Linked DNA regions of Homo sapiens. The protein of the gene in region 1 purifies or fractionates together with the protein of each later gene. This does not show direct contact. Each region holds a gene or a part of one and is shown in the gene's direction. Other genes may lie near its edges.

The links.
Region 2: the proteins of TNNI1 (region 1) and TTC4 purify together in Homo sapiens (co-immunoprecipitation; one large-scale study listed by IntAct). This does not show direct contact.
Region 3: the proteins of TNNI1 (region 1) and MFGE8 purify together in Homo sapiens (co-immunoprecipitation; one large-scale study listed by IntAct). This does not show direct contact.

Annotation. Positions count from the first base shown.
Region 1 is NC_000001.11:201,404,731-201,408,230, reverse strand, and holds part of TNNI1 (troponin I, slow skeletal muscle), read left to right. Parts: 3' UTR 1-3,500. UniProt on the Homo sapiens protein: Troponin I is the inhibitory subunit of troponin, the thin filament regulatory complex which confers calcium-sensitivity to striated muscle actomyosin ATPase activity.
Region 2 is NC_000001.11:54,714,472-54,718,660, forward strand, and holds the start of TTC4 (tetratricopeptide repeat protein 4), read left to right. Parts: upstream 1-1,389; 5' UTR 1,390-1,437; coding exon 1,438-1,548; intron 1,549-2,128; coding exon 2,129-2,246; intron 2,247-3,020; coding exon 3,021-3,182; intron 3,183-4,189.
Region 3 is NC_000015.10:88,906,719-88,910,561, reverse strand, and holds part of MFGE8 (lactadherin isoform a preproprotein), read left to right. Parts: intron 1-638; coding exon 639-770; intron 771-3,185; coding exon 3,186-3,367; intron 3,368-3,783; coding exon 3,784-3,843.

The DNA of each region.
Region 1 (3,500 bases):
TCCTCTGGATCAGGTCCTTTCTCCATCCCACTACCTCCTGGGTCCAAAGCCTGGTGAGAGCATAGGGCCTTCTGGGGTGGAAGGGGGGTCTGGGGCAGCCTCTCTTCCCCCAACATACTCACTAGAGTGGCTCCTGTGAAGCAGAGACCAAAGTTCTGACTTTTCTTTTTCCTTTTTTTTTTTTTTTTGAGATGGAGTCTCGCTGTGTCACCCAGGCTGGAGTGCAGTGACGCGATCTCGACTCACTGCAACCTCCGCCTCCCAGGTTCAAGCGATTCTCCTGCTTCAACCTCCTGAGTAGCTGGGATTACAGGTGCGTGCCACCACACCCCGCTAATTTTTGTATTTTTAGTAGAGACAGGGTTTCACCATGTTGGTCAGGCTGGTCTCGAACTCCTGACCTCGTAATCTGCCCACCTCGGCCTCCCAAAGTTCTGGGATTACAGGTGTGAGCGACCACATCCGGTCAAGTTCTGACTTTTCAGGGCAGTGGGATGGTGACTTCTGAGCTAAGCCTGCAAGGGAAGTGGCTGTTCCCAGACCTGGGGTCCCTTGGCTTTTCGACCACCCTAGCACTGGCCCTAGGAGGGGCTGAGTTATCAGAGCAGCAACCCTTCTACCCACCCTACTGAGTCCCCATTCTACCTTCGAATCCCATGTATTATCTTCCATAAGTGCCAGAAATTGGTACAAAGTGCAGTGCCAGCTGCTCCCCAGGGCATGGTCTGGCTCTCTGGGCTGCTGGGCTGCCAGCCCCTTTCAGAAAGCATGGCAGTGGGAACCAGCAACTTGGGCTACCTTAGGGGAAGCAGCACTCTGCCCAGGGTTCTTGCTATAAATAGGTCAGTGGGCAGAGAGGCAGATGTGTGCAAAAAGCACAACCCCAATCACACACAGAAACCCGTAGGCACGGACACACCCAGTCTCAATGCACGAAGTTGGAGAACCTGACAGGGCTGGTCCAGGCCACAGAGGATGGGGTTAGGCTTCATGCCTTCATGCCCAGGCAGCCACAGAAACCCACTCTTCCCCGCCTCACAGGGCTCCTCCGGTTGGCCTGGATCCAAAGCGATCTCCTTGTTTCACCTCTTTCCAGCTCTTCCCTAGAGCCTGGCCCCAAGTTCCAGAGTCAAATCCCAGTTTTGCAGTCAACTATTAACCTGGGGCCCTGGCAGATTGGGGTATCCACCCAGTCATGTAAAGGCAGGAGACCTGCTCTGGGCCTGACTCAAAGCAAACACGTGGGTGCAGAAGACCCATGGGAGGAGGAGGTGGGGCCCACTCAACACACCTAAGCCAGTGGCCCTCTAGGAGGGGCAGAAGAGCCAACCAGAGGGTTCCTGGAGGTCATCGGGTTCCTCCTTCTGCTTCCAGGCAGCAACAGACCTAATTCATCTCCTGTGAGGATGGAGCAAGGGCGAATATAGGCATAGACATATCTGGAGCGCAAGGATTGAGAGGCCCTGTGGACAAGGGGAAGGAGAGCTTGGGGGTGGGAGAGGGATCTATGGAAGGGGCTGTTGTAGCCAAGAATGGGGCCTGGGCTGGGGGCCTGGCCTCTGGAGAGCCCTGATTCTACTCCAGTCTTCTCTCACCATGGAGACAACACCAGTAGAGCTGGGAGCTGGGGCCTGCCACTGAGTAACAGCTCACACATGTAGCACACTTATGCGTCAGGCACCAGCATGTACACCTTAATTTATTTAACTTTCACAACAACCCTAGGAGAAAGGTACAGCTACTATTCTCATGGTACAGTGGGGAAAACTGAGGCACAGAGAGGTTAGGGACTTTTCATGATCACACAGCTAATAAGTGGTGGTCCCAGGATTCAACCCAAGAAGTCTGTTAGAATCCATACTCTTATCGACTATTTTAATAACAGCATTTCAATAATAGTAATATGTGATGTTAAATGCTTTATCTGAGTTATATCATTGCATTCTCACAAAAATGGTACATTTGTTAGCTCAAATTTACAGATGAGGAAATGGAGGCCTGGAGAGTTCAAGTAGCTCACTCTAAGTTACAGGGTTTGCTAGCTGCAGACTGGAGACTAGATCTCAGGTCACTCTGCCTTGGGGTTGCCCTTTTCTGAGATCAGACTGGCCTTAACAGAGCCCAACTTTCTTGGAAGGACACAGCTGGGGGTCGAGGGTCCTGCATATGCACCTGGGGAGTCCCCACACACCCGCACCAAAGGGGAAACATTCAAAGGAGATGCAGGTGACATACAGATGGGCTAAGGTGAGGCCTTCCTCCAACATGGGGCCCTGGCTGAGAGTGGAGGGATAGGGTGCTACTTGGGGGATATCTATTACTAATCAGCACACAATAGCTGGGTGGGCACCCCCTCTCTCTGCAGCTGGTGGAGATGGGCCTGGTGCTCCTCTCTGCTTGGTAGGAATGACCAGGGCAGGATGCCACCTGCTACACTCTTGCCTGTCCCAGAGCCCTTGGGAGACCAGCTGTTGCTCCCACCTTTCCCCACAGGGTGCCCGGTCCCCACGGCGCAAGGAGGCCAAGCTCAGCTGTGTGTCTGAGCCCACTCAGCAGCAGGCATGATCAGGGCAGGGCCCAGCGCTAAGGGCTGCTGGGGCTAAAGTGCCTTGCTGAAGGAGGGGCAGAGTTAAACATTAGCCACAATGGCCCCCCGCGAAGTGAGTCATACTCCCCACAAGTCTCTGGGCTGGGCAGCCGGGGGCGGGGGGGTTAGCTTCGTTCCAGGTGGGTGACCAAGCTGCGGAAGCCCAGGACAGTTCGCTGGGACCAGTGCTAATGGCAGCTTCTGCTCCTGACCCCCATCAGGTCTCTTTCCTCAGACATCCCCAAAGCTTGTCTGCCTGTGGGTCTTTCATTAAAGGTGACGGGCAAGGGTTTTCTCTTCCTTCCAAGACACACTTCTAGGCTGGCTTGTGGGTCCCCTGAGACGAAGGCTGAGCAGGGTGAGCCTCGAAAACCCCATAGCACTGGCCCAGAGCACTGCGGTCAATGTCCGAAGGACCAGAGAGGGAGGGTGACTTGCTCAAGGTCACAAACCTAACTGGAGCTAGGAAGTAGGTCCCCAGACTCCCAGTCTGAGGAAATTGGATGTGGACAGGGCTTTGGTCTCCTGGCCAGAGGCAAACGCCCAGGGATCTGAACAGGCTGCCCATCTCTGGCCTCAACTCAGCACCCCAACTGGCTCCAGTGCCAACCATTGGCCTCTCTCACTGGTTGGCACAGGCTGGGTGAGCCTGGCCCTTTGCCCTGGGTTCAGGAGAGAGGTATGGCTTTGCCTGGCAGTCAGGGGAGGTGTTCCAACCTGGGAGCCCCTGGGGGAGGAGCGTGTGTGTGAACGCTTGTGCCTGTTCATCAGAAGGGGTGAGCATGGTGTGTATGCGTGGGCATGCAGAATGCAGGGTGATGACCTGTCTGCCCGCCCTGAGTGTCACAGACACCTGTGTGTCCCCTGTACTAGTGCCTCCCAGATGCTCTTCTCCTGACTGGCTCTTTGTGAC
Region 2 (4,189 bases), about 150 Mb from region 1:
AGGCTGGAGTGCAGTGGCGCAATCTCGGCTCACTGCAACCTCCACCTCCCGGATTCAAGCGATTCTCCTGCCCCAGCCTCCCCAGTAGCTGGGACTACAGGTGCGTGCCACCACGCCTGGCTAATTTTTTGTATTTTTAGTAGAGACGGGGTTTCACTGTGTTAGCCAGGATGGTCTCGAACTCCTGACCTCATGAACTGCCCGCCTCAGCCCCCCAAAGTGCTGGGATTACAGGCGTGAGCCACCGTGCCCGGCCCTGGACACACCTCTTAACACTTGCAGTACCCAGCATGGCGGGCCTGTGCACACCTCCATGCCTCTCTCCACATATGAGCTCCCACTGCCTAAAACGCTGAGTCCTCTATCCATCTGCAGAGACCTTCCTCAGCTCTGATCTCAGCTCTGCATCACCTTGAATCCCACCCCTCTGAGCCTTCACTGAGCAGACCTGTGACCCAATGCCAGTTTAGATTGGTGTGCTTCCTGTCTGCTTTTCATTCCAGACCAGGCTAGGAGCTCCCCAAGGCTGTAGCCCCGGTGCAGGGACCTGCAGCCATTTGCTGGCCGGTAGAGAGGCTGCAGGAAGCCACAGCGGCTGCCTAACCAGGCCTGCAGCACCTGGACCGAAGACCCTTTTCCATCTGAACTGTGGGAGTTAGGGGTGGCTAAGCTCAGAGACAGAGGTCTGATCAGTCTCTCCTTTCCTCGAAACTCTCCAAAAGGTCCCATACCACTGAGGAAATAGCCAAATCCTCATAGTCACAGCCCTTTTGTCCTCCCACCTCATCATCTCCTTGCCCCCTTCCTCACTCTGCTTCAGCCCCACTGGCCTCCTTGCTGTTCCCCAAGCACAGAAGACTCTCCCGCATCAGGCTTCCGGACTGTTCCCTGTTCCTTCCATGGGAATGCCTTTCCCAGACCCCTCCTAGTCACTCCCAGGCCTCTGGCAGAATGTCTACCCATCCTGTTTAAAACTTTTCCCCAATAGCTCTTGCTACCCCTGACAAACTCTTACATCTCAACTATTGTCGTTTCCTCCCCACTGCCTTAGCAACTCCTAGAGGGCAGAGATTTCATCTGCTCTGCCCACCGCTATATAGCCAGCCACTAGAACAGGCCGGAAGCGCAGAAAGAGCTAAGTAAGTATGTGTTGACTGACTGACGAACAAATGAATGAAGTGAGATGGGGGCTTTGGGGATTCGGGTTCACGCACCACCCCAAAAGCATTCGAAGGCCGGGCGAGGCCAGGCACTGCCGAGGAGGGCGGGCCGGGGGAGGAGCGTATTGGCCACGCCCGGCCACGCCCCCAGGCCGGCGGAACCCAAGGCGCGGGGACCTGCGCTGCCGGGAGGATTGAGGGAAGGGAACCCGCGCCGCCGGAAGGAGCCGCTCGCTTCACGGCGCTGGGACCCGGGCTGGAAGGCAGGGCATCAGCTATGGAACAACCTGGGCAGGATCCCACCTCAGACGACGTCATGGACTCGTTCCTGGAAAAGTTCCAGAGCCAGCCTTACCGTGGCGGCTTTCATGAGGACCAGTGGGAGAAGGTGGGCGGTCCTGGGGTCTCCCCACGTGTGTAGGGGCGTCGTCCGGACTCGTGGGGCACCCGGGCTCTGGGGCACCTCCTTCAATCCCAGATCCCTGGCGCTGCCAGCCGATCGCTGGTTTCTAGTTGAGTATTGAAAATCGGCCTCGAGGTTTTGAGTCGCTTCTTAAGCTGAGAACCTAGGTTTTGGAGTCAGGCCTGTGACTCCACCACTTAACTGGCTCTGATATGAGTCAGTTACTTAACTTCTCAGAGTCCGTTTCCTCATCTGTAAAACTGCGCGAACTATATCACCAATAGCAAAGATGAAATGAGACAGTTGGTAAAGTGCCAAGAACATAAGGGCGCTCAATTAATGGTAATTCCTGCCGCTCTTGTAGAATGTGAGAACTAAAACAATCATTAGAGACCATTACACCACACTCCCATTTTACAGAAGGGAAGCGGAGGCCTGAATGGATACAGCTAGCTGTGATGATTTGCAAATCATGATGAGTAAAAAAACTTTGGTAATGAGTCATGGAATTGGATCTGCTCAGTAGAAAAGCTTATTCATGTAGTTCATTCTTAACCATTTACAGGAATTTGAAAAGGTCCCCCTATTTATGTCGAGAGCGCCATCAGAAATTGATCCCAGGGAGAATCCTGACTTGGCTTGTCTCCAGTCAATTATTTTTGATGAGGAGCGTTCTCCAGAAGGTATCTTAACATGACTAATATTTGTTTTGTGTTTCCATTGAACTGAAATTAAGTGTGGGTTAGAAGCGTTCTGATTGATAACAAGAAGTAGTTAGCCTGAGCTAACTTGTCATTATTCATTCCAATATACTTCTTTTTGTACCTACTAAGTGGTAAGGACTGGGGATACAGGGGTGAATAAGACACAGTTCCACCCTCCAAGGTCAGGCTCAGTGAGAAGCCTTTTGTCTTAAAGAATCAAGACAAACTTATGCTATAAGTGTCAACATGTAGGTGTATACTACAGCTGTAGTGGGTCCTGTTGGAACACTTTAAGGAGCAGGAGTGGATTCACAATAGATAGGAAATTTGAGCTGAATCTTTGTAATTTTGTAGGCTTTTACTAGGGTGAGGAGGGGAATTTGCACTCCACAGAATAAACAACATAAGCAAAAGCAGAAGTATAATCAATCCCCCTGCCCCTCACTGATTTCTTCAGTGATTAAAAAAAATTCTTTTCTTCAACAGCTAGGATGAGTGTACTTTTTTCCTTTATACTTCTTTTTTTTGGAAAGCACTTAGTAATCTACCTTGTAAGATATTTGGAATTAGCATTACATTTGTGCGACTTTGTCCATGTTGATACCCACTTTTATCATAACATCGAGTTTCCTTTCCCTATTGGTTTCTTCGCTTTGGTGTGTCATATAGTACATTATTACATGATTTAGAATCTATTTTTAATGAGCCTTTTAAAAAGTAAGCAATAGTGATTATTTTTCCTCTTCTTTGCAGAACAGGCCAAGACCTATAAAGATGAGGGCAATGATTACTTTAAAGAAAAAGACTACAAGAAAGCTGTAATTTCATACACTGAAGGCTTAAAGAAGAAATGTGCAGATCCTGATTTGAATGCTGTCCTTTATACCAACCGGGCAGCAGCACAGTACTATCTGGGTAATTTATAAGTGCTTTCTGAAGAATAAACTTATGATACAAGCCATTATGATGGTTAGTGGAGGTTTGAGAACATCAGAGGATGAGGGGCTGTTATCCCAGAAACCCAGACTAAGGATAGTTTACTCTGATTGAACTCTGGTCTTCCAAGTTGACATGATGAAAAGAGAAACAGGATGGATTGTGTAATTCTTACTGTCTCAACCCAAAAAGTGACTTGGTCACTCAAGTAAGGTGTTTGATGTATGAGGCAGTATGTTCTGAGATTTTTGAGCCCAAGGGCTTCTACTCTCTCAAAAAATGTGTTTTTCTGGCCTTTTATCCTCTTTTCAAGGATGCTAGCAGGAGTAAGGCAGTAGAGATCTTTAGGTGAGATAAGCTATTTTAATCTAAGGGAGAATATCTCAAAGCGTTCTGTGGGACCTTTGAGTTAAAAATATTTTTTGGTTGGGTGCAGTGGCTCATACCTGTAATCCAAGCACTTTGGGAGGCTGAGACAGGAGGATCGCCTGAGGCCAGGAGTTCAAGACCAACCTGGGCAATATAGTGAGACCCTGTCTCTCCAAAAATTTAGCTGGGCATGGTGGTGCCTGCCTGTAGTCCTAGCTACTTGGGAGGCTGAGGCACGAGGATCGCTCAAGGCTACAGGGAGCCATAATCACACCACTGCACTCCAGCCTGGGTGACAAAGTGAGACCCTGTTTCTAAAAAGTTGCTTGGATGAGGAATTTTAACTCATTTATTTATTCATATTTTTTACTTTATTACATTTTTTTGTAGAGACAGGGTTTTGCCATGTTGCCCGGGCTGGTCTCGAAATTGGGCTCAAGTGATCCATCCGCCTCAGCCTCCCAAAGTATTGGAATTACAGGTGTGAGCCACCGCACCCAGGAGATTGAGGAAGTTTGGAAAATGCTGCTTCTTAGAGATTTACAGTACATGTTAACATGTTAAAGACACTGAGATAGCCTGCAAGAAAATAAATTTACCCTGGGTTTCTCAAATTT
Region 3 (3,843 bases), on another chromosome or scaffold:
TCATCTGTGGACTTGCTGGCCTCTTTCCCCTTGGCTTCTTGAGGCCTGCGCTGCATCTGATTTCTCTGTCTCGGGGGCCTAGCATGGTCATTGGCCCTCCCAGTGTTTCCTGGATGATCATCGTGCTGTTCCTGAGTCAGGGCTGCCATTGGAGGTGACATCTGTGACTGCAACCTGTGCCTGAATTGGTGGGCGGAACCTGCTCAATGGGCCAGAACAATGCTTCCTTCCACTGCCCCTGCCTGAAAGTCCTCATGGGCCTCCTTTGCAATCAAACTGCTGCCAAGAGACCTGCCCTGGACCTTGCCTGCCTCTCCAGACCCCAGCTGCCAGCTCTTCCACCAGTGGGCAGTGGTCCCCAGCACCACTGCCATTGTCAGCCAGCACTTTTCTGGACACTCCCAGGCCACTTGGAAAGCTGGGCGCTTCCCTTATGTGGGCCGATTCGCCTACACATGGACTTCCTTGGCTCTAGGCGGACTCAGGCTCCATCCAGCACACGGGGGAAGAGGGAGAGGAAGAGATAATGGGCGAGTTTGAGTGGAGGGTCCTTTTGGGCTGGACCCATCTGCTACTTCTCACCTGTGTCCCCAGCTCCTTCCTGATCATCTGCTCATCTTACCTGTCTCTGTCCCCAGATATCTGTTCCAAAAACCCCTGCCACAACGGTGGTTTATGCGAGGAGATTTCCCAAGAAGTGCGAGGAGATGTCTTCCCCTCGTACACCTGCACGTGCCTTAAGGGCTACGCGGGCAACCACTGTGAGACGAGTGAGTATGTGGGGGTGCTTGTTGCCTGTTTCTAGCAGTAGACCCTGAGCCACAGCCCTGGTGGCATAGGCCATATGCTGGCCTTATTCTCTGCCTGTGATCCCCACCCCAGTGGAGGTGTCAAGGCCTCCTCTGGGGAGACTCAGAGAGAGAGACAGAGCCTCAGTTAGACCGAGGGGGGAAAAGGGTCCTGTTGTTTCTTCCTTCTTTCTGCCTGGCCCTCTTTCCTGAGACTGCCGGCCAGGCCTGATGCTGATGCAGAGGAGTGAGGGGTTGTGGTCACCCTGGAGGTCACGGGAGTGCTGTTTCTTGAGTCACCATGAGCCAGACACACAGCATTAGGGTTAAGTTGCAAGGATTTTTCTACCTAAGAGGGGAAAACAAACACATTCTTGGTCTTTTGAGGCCCAGGAACTCAGTAAATCAGCCTTGGTTTCAGAGTCTGACAGTTCCTGGCCCAAGTTTGACCTGCAGCCTCATCGCAGAGCTCGGGGAGAAGGGAGAGGCCTGGGCCAGCTGAACCATCCCCACGCGGTCAGGTGGTCAGAGGCCTTGCATGCCCAGAGGGGCTGTCCGCGTGTGACCTGCCTGGTTATCCACTCGGCCACAGAATGGCCCTAGGTGGGGTGGCAACAGCAGTTCCCCTGCTGTCCTCCCTCCAGGCCCAGCTGGAGTCCCTCCCACTTAGTGCTCCCACCCCACTAGGACTCCTCATGGGGCAGGCGGGTTGCCCACATGTGGGCCCAGGGATGGGTGGAGCGGGGGGTCCTAGGTTTCTGAATCCAGCAGGTCAATCGCTGAGCATCTTGGGTAGGGGACAGGGGACATCTTGCCCTCCTCAGGGAGATGTGGGGATGGGTTCTGAGGTTTGCTGGCCTCCAGAAGGAGGGGGCGGGGGGCTTGAGCCAGCTGGGTGGCAGCAGGGGCCCTGGGAGAGAGCAGGTCAAGTGAGTAGGATGCCTTTTACCTCCCAAGTGGCCCTGGGGCCTGTGCCTTGGACCCTGCCCTGAGGCCAGATGTGTTTGAGATCCTGGTGGAAGGGTGTGTGTATGGTTTGGCGGACGGGTTGCTAAGGCAATCAGAGCCCTGGGTAGGGCCAGGTGGAGCCACTAACAAGTATCCTGGGAGCTGAGGTAACAGTGAGTGTGCCTGAGTGGGAATTACCCACCTTGACTTCTAGCTTCTGGGCCTGGGATCTTCCCCAGGCTGGATATGGCTGCACCCAGGAAGAAGGCAGGGGTGACCACACAGCGGAGGAAGCCCTCAGAGGGACCTTCGCAGCTCTTCCTTGCCTTTTACGTGGTATGTTTCCTTGGAGCCAACAAGGACCCTGCGGGCCCAAAGAATGCACACTGGACTCCTTCAGGGTGTGAGCGTGGTGGGGTATGGGGATAGTCTTGGAGGCAGACTGGGGTCAAATCTCAGCTCAGCCACTGGCCGAGCTCTGGTCTTGAGGCTCTGGCCTCACTTTGCGCGTTCCCCTCCCTGCCAGAGTGCGCTAACACTGAGCTCGTCCGCGCCTGTGATGTTGGAGGAAGACTAGATCTGTCTGTGGGTTCTCTGCTTGGCAGCTGGAAGGCCCAGGCACACGCTGGGGGGATCCCCAGGTGATGAGAGAAGCTTGGCCTGTAGGTGGGCCTGGTAGCTGTCCTGGGTTCCTGGGACCACACTGCTGGAGTGATGGTGAGGGGGGTGGGGCCTTGGCCACGGGCATGTTCACAGATGGCTGGGTGAGGGCCCACAGGTGGAAGGCGTAAAGAGGGAAAGCAGAATGGCATTTGTGCCCCACCCAGAGAACTCCTGCCAGTGGGATTCTAGAAAACTCCAGGCAGATTAGCTTCTTTCTTTGTGTACAGTGCTGGTACTGTTCACTGCTATCCGAGGTAGCCCTTCTCCCAAAGCCACCCTCCTGAGGAAGCCAGGGGCTGGGCTGAGGATGGCGTCCCTTCCTGGTGGGGGGAGGGGACACTGAGGAAGAGGGGGTCACACCGGTATTCTGTGCCACCAGTCTAACCCCTGCACCAGACTGATTGCTGCCAGATGCCCTATATGAACGAGGCCACCTCCCACAGCCTGGCGGGGGGGACTCTACTTTCCATGAGTGCCAATCATGGCTGTCCCCACAGTGCTACCCTGGCTGGGATCCTCTGGCAGCCCTGGGTCCCAGCCTCCCGTGACTCTGCCCACCCCCCTCATCCTCACCACCCCTGGCCACATACCTTTTCTTGGCACCTCGTCCTGGGCACTGCCTTCATTGTCCCTTTGTGGTCTTTGTTCTGAGAGAGGCTCTGAGGTTCTCCCTGGCCCTGGGGCTTAGGCAGAGGTCATACAGTCTTATTTTCTTGTCCGCTGGGTCCCAGCTGGGCCCGGGAACCTGCTGGGGTAGCCACCTGACTGCCACCTCCCTTCCCTCAGAATGTGTCGAGCCACTGGGCCTGGAGAATGGGAACATTGCCAACTCACAGATCGCCGCCTCGTCTGTGCGTGTGACCTTCTTGGGTTTGCAGCATTGGGTCCCGGAGCTGGCCCGCCTGAACCGCGCAGGCATGGTCAATGCCTGGACACCCAGCAGCAATGACGATAACCCCTGGATCCAGGTATGCCTGGGGATGGCCCTGGGGCGGGGCAATGGAGAGAAGGCTCGATGAATGTTTCTGCATTTGGGGGTTACCCCAGGAGGGTTCATCACTGGGGTTCAGGTGGCAAGGTAACAGGTTCCCATGGATGAAGTATCTGTAAGTGGATGGCATCCCTGGAGGAACCTGGTATGGGGTCAAGGTGAGGGGGGAGGAGGCCCCAGGCTGTGGAGGAGCTGTTGGTGCTGGATGAGGCCTCTGGAGGCCTGGGCAGAAGAAGAAAGCCCTTTGTGCGGGCAGTGTGCTCAGCTACCCCTCCTCTGTTTTGCTTGAGTTGTTCCCCCACCCAGTGGGGGAGTGAAGGGATGGGTCTGCTTGGATCTTGAGTGGAAAGAACCCAGGAGATAAGGGTGCCATCTCCCCTGCCCTGTGTCCAGGTGAACCTGCTGCGGAGGATGTGGGTAACAGGTGTGGTGACGCAGGGTGCCAGCCGCTTG